Homo sapiens: one gene and its partner. Changing the gene in region 2 together with the main gene of any one other region gives a genetic interaction. Each region holds a gene or a part of one and is shown on either strand. Other genes may lie near its edges.

Region 1 (3,833 bases), on a different chromosome or scaffold from region 2:
ACAGCTAAAGCTGTATAACAATGAGATTTATAGATAATTAAAAAATAAACATTGCCATGATTTATCCCAAAACAATGAAATTTAATCTTACTACAATGATTTTGATAATTAAATAATACCTTGTAGGCTTTCTTGCAACCATCATCTCAACTAAATCTTACAAGGTCAATAAAATTTACTGAAGAGAAAGTCCCACTCTTATCCATGATTACATGATTACTGTTTTTCAAGTATCTGAACAAATAAGGTACAAATACAAAGTTTTAATGCCTTAACTAGAAAGGTAGGTATCACAGGTGGACATACATCAAAGGAAATATATCTGTGGCATCATGATTTTAATCATCTTCACTTTTTTAAATTTTCAGATGTTGGGGACATTTTAAGGAACATGTAAGGTCCTTTTAAATGTAATAGACTGTCTAGAAGAGTTGACTGCATTATCTTGGTTTCTCTTTCTCTGCCTTTAGATTACCATTTACCTTCTGGGAATGTCATACTTATTTCTACATCTGAGTTACTTCTCTCACGAGAAGCTGGAAAAAAAAATCAATTAATCACTATTTGTAAACACCCTTGGAGCTTTAGCTGAAAGGCCTTTTGACAAGCGAAGTATTATTCTTTAGTACCTTACGGCACTATTATGTCCTTACTGGTACATACTTATAAGTAATTTTTATTGGATCTTAAGACCCAGCATTTGTTTGTTTTTTATGACATCAGGCTAAATCTAGCAGTCACCTTGACTGGAAACCTGTTATGTTTAGTTGTCATGTGCAAAGTAATTGGCCTGGTGGAGGGGATAATACCTTATTTCTCATTTCAAGTAAAGCCTATCACACTGGATTATGGCTATTCACATTTGCCTGGCACCTTGCTTGGCACTTAATCTGAGTGCATAATGGGATTAATGAACTACGCAAACCACCAGATCTGGAGCTATCAACTTACCAGCCAGCATATGCATACATTCCATAATAAAAAGCCAGTGGCAACCGCGTAATACTTGAATCTCTTCCTGAAAAGGCGTCTTTAAAGTTCTGCGTTTGACCTGTAATTAGAATAGACTGATTTTAGGATTTTTCAAAGAATTGGTTCTTATTCACTCTTAACCAGAAACATGGGGGTGCGGAGAAACATACTGTTGTAAGTCTAGATTTCTTACTCTCTGTTGATTACCATCTTTATCAATACTGTACCCATTCTATAGAAGGGGTCCCAAAAGTATATTGATCATTAACACTATTTCATATTTCTCTTTTAATAAATTTATAACAAAGATGAAAATGGCATTGAAAAATAATCCTCTGTTTGAGTATGCCTCTATTGTGACCATAAAAGAAGACTAAAGGGTTTTCTGTAAATTATAATCTTTATGAATATGATAGAATTCTTAAAAGATAGAATTCTTAAAAAGATAATGTTTTGCTTGGCAAGAAAATGCGGAGAGGTATCCAAGGTTCTACCCTTAATGAGGAGATGGAAATAAATCCCAGGACTCCTTTCCTACACAATTTACCTTTCTGCTTTCTGTTTATCCCATGTTGTTCATTAGATGCCTACCTCCTAGAAGAGAAGTTGGAAAATCCTGAAGACCATGTGTGTCAACCCAAACTGCAAGCCTTTCTTTTTTTATTTTTTTCAAGATGGAGTCTCACTCTGTGGCCCAGGCTGGAGTGCAGTGGCACAATCTTGGCTCACTGCAACCTCCGCCTCCTGGGTTCAAGTGATTCTCCAGCCTCAGCCTCCTGAGTAGCTGGGATTACAGGAGCGCGCCATCATGCCCAACTAATTTTCATATTTTTAGTAGAGATGGGGTTTCACCATGTTGGCCAGGCTGGTCTTGAACTCCTGATCTTGTGATCCGCCCGCCTCGGCCTCCCAAAGTGTTAGGATTACAGGTGTGAGCCACTGCGTCTGGCTGCAAGCCTTTCTTATAGATAAAGTTTTCTTTATCTATAAGTTAAAAATGCCCATTCATGAAGTATTACCCATTCATGAAGTATTGCCTATGGCTGATTTCAACCTATAATAGCAGAGTTGAGACCATACAGCTAGCTTGAAAAATTGAAAATATTTACTCTCTTGTCCTTTACAGAGAAAGTCCACTCACTCTGTGACCCTGTCCTAGAGAATGACATGTTTTTTTTCCTAGAAATATTGAAAAGATATTATAATGAACTCTAAAATAAATAGGTTTCAACAAATTTTGCAGCAGCATGTGAATTGAACACTTCACCTTTTTCTCTATTTTATGAATCACATTGGAGCTTTTTCTTTTATATCTTTTGAATAGTTTTAAAAGTTAGAAATTCAGATTTACTTTAGTCAGTCAATATTCAAGCTTAAGCAGAAAAAATGTTTCTATTACCCAAAGAAAATAGCAAATGAGATTACCCAAATGGGAAGTGAGACTTTGTTTTAAAATAAAACTTCATGTAAATAAACAGAAGGGGGACAGGGGGTGGATGATGTGTATGAGACACTCTCTCTTCCAAGTCAAATCTCAGTTTTTCCTGCATTCATTGCCCAGGCATAACTTATATATAAATATAATATGTGTGAGTATGAAGACCAAAAATGGAGAATGTTGAATTATATACTAAACAATTTTTCTCTCAAATGATTCCCAAACATAGCTCACTTTTTAAATGACATGATAAATTCAGAAATGCCCATTTTACTAAAACATCATTGTGTCCTTCCAGGAGAAAAATATAAATAGTGGAATTCAGATAAAAGCATCTGTTGAATATTCTTTTATCATAATCTGTGGTCTCTTTGGCATAAAGGCACAATATTTCTTAGAGTGCAGCACCAAATAATCCATAAGAAAAACCAAATTCTATAAAGACTGGGTCACAAGCAAAGATCTTCAAAAGTGCCATTTTGAGAATATTACAAAAGAGAGGCATTTTGTTTCTAGAATTCAGGAATATTTTGGCTATATAACAGAGGTCTCATGAAGATTAAAGGCAATATTCAAAGGAAAGTTCAACAAACTCTCATAAGTGAATACATAACATACAACTACTTTCAGGATATGATTAGAATAGAAATAAAAGCACAATCTGTATTAACAAAGTCTCCTACTAGAGTTTCAGATTAATGTGAAAAATGTGTGATCATGTTAGAGATGAAGAAAATCACAATTTTACAGCAATCGAGCAAATATACCTGCTAATAATGGTCTCTAAAATGTTAAATTTACATTAAATGCGGTAATATTCTCAGGGAATTTCTCTGTTGTGTGAGATCTCTGAATAAGCCTGTCACATTAAGCATTGATATCATGATTATTGATTAAAGTGTCTCTGTATTTTAGCCACTAAAAAAACCTCAAGATATATCATGACCTCTGCTCTCAAGGAATTTGCAATAGAGCAACATTTGGGCAACCAAACCCTTCCTCATATACATATATAAATACCTGGTAAAAATTGAATAAAGTCTATAATGCTACCTATAGTATCTTACATTACACCAAAAAGAAGAAGAAAATAAATCTTAGTTTCAAGGGATAGCATATAATCTTTTGGAATCTAAACTAGTATTAAAGAACAGCCAATGACCCAGAGATTCTGCACTTTTCAAATACTGAAGAAACTCCTTACAGAAGACTGAAGAGTTAGCTCAGAAAAATAAAGCACTAACAAAACAGATTATTGTGCCTACATTCCTAACGAATAAGATAGAAATGAGCAGGCTAGCTCTGTGGAGGCCAAGGTGTATTAGAAGAGCAAGCTCCTGTCTTCTCTTCAGTGCAAGCTCTAACGGTCAAAATCTTCATTGTGTTTATTCTGCATTGGCTGCTGTTGCTGGATTTCATAAAA
Region 2 (3,436 bases):
TGGAAAATTCAGTTTCTTTGGAAGGTTACAGAAAAAGTCACTTGTTTTGAGTACATTTCCATGTTTTTCACTGTCATCATTTTTCTTCAGTCAAAAATAATTTTACTTTCCGTTCTTAAAAGAATAGTAATATGTGAGTAAGCTCCATAGGAGTTGGCCACCTGTTCTTAAAATTCTGTTTGGTATTGGTCATTCTAGGTCAACTGCATTTACCCTCTCAATGAATGTTTCAGGACTATCAACACATGCATGTCATGAGGAGATTGCTGGATTATGCAAAACACACTGCCCAAGCTCCAGAATATAGTTATTTTCTTAGAGTTTAGGAGGCCAAGAGTGACACAGAGGAAGGTCCTAGGTACAGGATGCTAGAACTCCAGAATGTCTGACTGAAAATTCAAAGGGTATCAAGCTGGTGAGACATCCAACTTCATTGAGTTGGGGGCATCTGGCAGGTAGGGATGGGAAGGCATTTGCTTAAGTGTGTCAAGTTCCAGGTATGATGAGATTAGATGCAGCTCCTCTGCTCCTACTTAAGTCAAACACTTCCATGTTGCACCTTGTCCCTGGTTGTCTAGTGGGAGTAAGTGGCAGAACAGCAGAGTTAAGAAACTCAAACTCTTTCTCTTTGGATGGGAAAGCCACTGGGGACTGAATCCTTCTGGGACTATAGGATTATGTTTCCAATGGGAGACCCCACAAGTAGAAAAGAGCACTTCTCCCTTCCTCCCCCAAGGCCAAGAAAAGCAAAGAAGATGTCTATAATGAAGAACATCTATACATATACCCGGAGTTTTTCCTTTTATTTACAAAGCAGTAAACCAAATTCCTGTGTGAACATAAATATCCAATATAATATAATATTGCGTATGCCATTTCCCCCCTCAAATATGACTTCAATTTTGGCCAGTTGTTCTGACTTAAGCCAAAAATTAGTTTCATCTATATGAACATATGATGGTAAGTAACCTATTTATTACCTTAAAATGTTTCCCCACATAAAGGAAATGGTAGAGAGTAAGGGGAAAAGAGAAATAAGAGATGTGATAAAACCTATTCCACCATCTTTATCTTCATCCACAGCATGTCCTAGACATTCAGTGCCTGGGCCAGTCTCTATAGTAAACTTGGGCTGATCTGGAAACGTCTCCACTTAGCTCTGTAAGGATGGCACCCTTCAGGGTGCTTCAGAGGAAACTTACTGAATTCAACCCAAGTGTCCTGAAAGAAATTGAAGAAGTTACTCAAAGAGCTGAACTTTAAAACAAGGAGTAGCTGAGGGTGAGGCATATCCTATCTTGAGTTTCTGAGCACTCTGGTACCATGGAATGTCTGTACACTGACCTTCGCCAAAGCCAAGAAAGCCCTGGTAGGAGTCACAGCAGCCATGGGTGAGCTGAAAGGCTTTTCCTGACTTCCTGGGGTCTCAGGAATAGCCAGAGGTGAAAAGATTTGCCTTTTTTACTACATAATTGCACAAACCATGGTATCTATTTTCTGATCCAGATTTCCAAAGGCTTTTCTGAAAACTACAAGATATACCCCTTGTGGACTGTGTGAAAATAAATTTATCTTTATGTATTTGAACAGTAGCCATAGATGTGCCTCTTCTCTACAGATTTTTCTGTCACACACATACACATATAAACACACACATACACACACAGAGTCTGTGTGGTGGGCCAAACATGCCAAAAATAAATACTCTCACTTCTCTAAATTATTTATAGAACTCATCTGATTTTTAAAATATGTTAATAAATAATCTAAATGGGGGAGGGAGTTGAAGTGTTTTTTTTTTTTTTTTACTTATGTTGATGGATAGCCACAAAGCATAATCATCTTATTTACAAAAAACAAATGCCCCAAAACCTAAAAAAGCCCCCCCAGCAACCAAACATCTTCTGTAAATATAGTTTTTAAATGATGAGTAAGGTACTGTGCCATTGGCCCCCATTTGGTTATGTGCATCATGTTAGTCAGCAGTAGCCATTCCACGAATTCCTCATGGGTAGTGCAACCAGTTAAAAAGTGTATAAAACATTATACATAGAAAAACTCTCACATCCTTTGGATGTTTGCAGTTCATCATAACTTTGTGGTTACCTTTCCGCAACATAAATTTAAAAAAAAAATCACACACACACATACACTCACACAGACCCATATATAGAAACCCATTCATCCAGTCATACACCATCCAGAGTGTAGTGCATGGGACTGAATTCCATGAGGCACGAAGGGGGTGATCCCATCCTCAGGGTAGTCCATCATCTTCAAGGCTTAATGCCACTCGCTGGGGAGACAAACCAAAGAATTCATCATTAGATCCATAAGAGTTACTATTTATTTAGTATTGACAAATCACAGACTTACGTTACTTTAACAGGTATTAGCTCACATAATGTTCAAACTATCCTAAGAGACAGGATTTATCCTATTTATTTTACAGATGAGAAACAAAACTCAATGAGCTTAAGTAGGGTTTGTTCTGGATCACATAGCAAGTGGCTGAACTAAAATTTGATCCCAGGTCTGTATGAATCCAAAGCTGTAGATTTTTTCATCATTCTGTTTTGTATCTTTGTAAAGAAGAGTTGCACAGATCTAAATTTTCTTAATCCTCCCTTATAGGATTTTAGGTTTGGTCAATTTCAGTGGGTTAGCTTTGGCAAATGTTAAATTTCAGGCTATGGGGTTACTTGTCTCTAGCATGCTAATCACATTTAGAAAGGTAATATACTGCACCTTCCCAACAGATTAAACACAGTTGGGAGGCAATGCAGGTTAATTAAATTCCATCCCTCTCTCCCTCACCCCTGCTTTCCAGTCATTAGGTAGATGCTAGACTCCTGTCTGCCAAAAATGGCTGACCATGGGAAGGTGAGCCCACTAACCCCTGAACCAGTCTATTCCATTGTGGACAACAGATTTAAATTCTTTCCTATATTAATGTGAAATTTGTTTGTTTATATCTTCTGACATTCCCTGATTCCATCTCAGACTCAGAGACAGTTCTACATAGGACAACCCTTGAAATTTATAGATGGTGTTTGAATTCCCTTCCGTTCATTCTGAGTGTTTTCTTCTCCAGGGTACACATCTAACTTTCCCCAGCTAGTCCTGATGTAATCTTGTTTGCCTCTTTTCCATTTCCCAGATACCCTCCTTTGGAAAGACCCTCCCCAGCTTCAGTACTTTTCCTCATAGTTATGTGAATTTGGGCCAGCCACTTTACTTCTCTGAGACTTAGTTTTATCATCTATCAAATGGGAATAGTAACAGGACCTACCTCACAGGGTTGTTGAGGAATCAAATGAGATAATGCACAGAGAGTGTTTAACATAGTACCTAACAACACATAGGGCCCAGAATATCCTAGGTCAACGTAACCAACATAAAATAGAATCAGACTAGTATCTCCCATCTCTGGACA

Evidence for each region.
Region 1: changes in LRP8 (region 2) and SLC7A11 are lethal when combined (synthetic lethality), as found in Homo sapiens cells (one study listed by BioGRID).

Annotation. Positions count from the first base shown.
Region 1 is NC_000004.12:138,218,315-138,222,147, forward strand, and holds part of SLC7A11 (cystine/glutamate transporter), read right to left. Parts: intron 1,052-3,833; coding exon 952-1,051; intron 1-951. UniProt on the Homo sapiens protein: Heterodimer with SLC3A2, that functions as an antiporter by mediating the exchange of extracellular anionic L-cystine and intracellular L-glutamate across the cellular plasma membrane.
Region 2 is NC_000001.11:53,244,761-53,248,196, forward strand, and holds part of LRP8 (low-density lipoprotein receptor-related protein 8 isoform 1 precursor), read right to left. Parts: intron 2,297-3,436; coding exon 2,258-2,296; 3' UTR 1-2,257. UniProt on the Homo sapiens protein: Cell surface receptor for Reelin (RELN) and apolipoprotein E (apoE)-containing ligands. LRP8 participates in transmitting the extracellular Reelin signal to intracellular signaling processes, by binding to DAB1 on its cytoplasmic tail.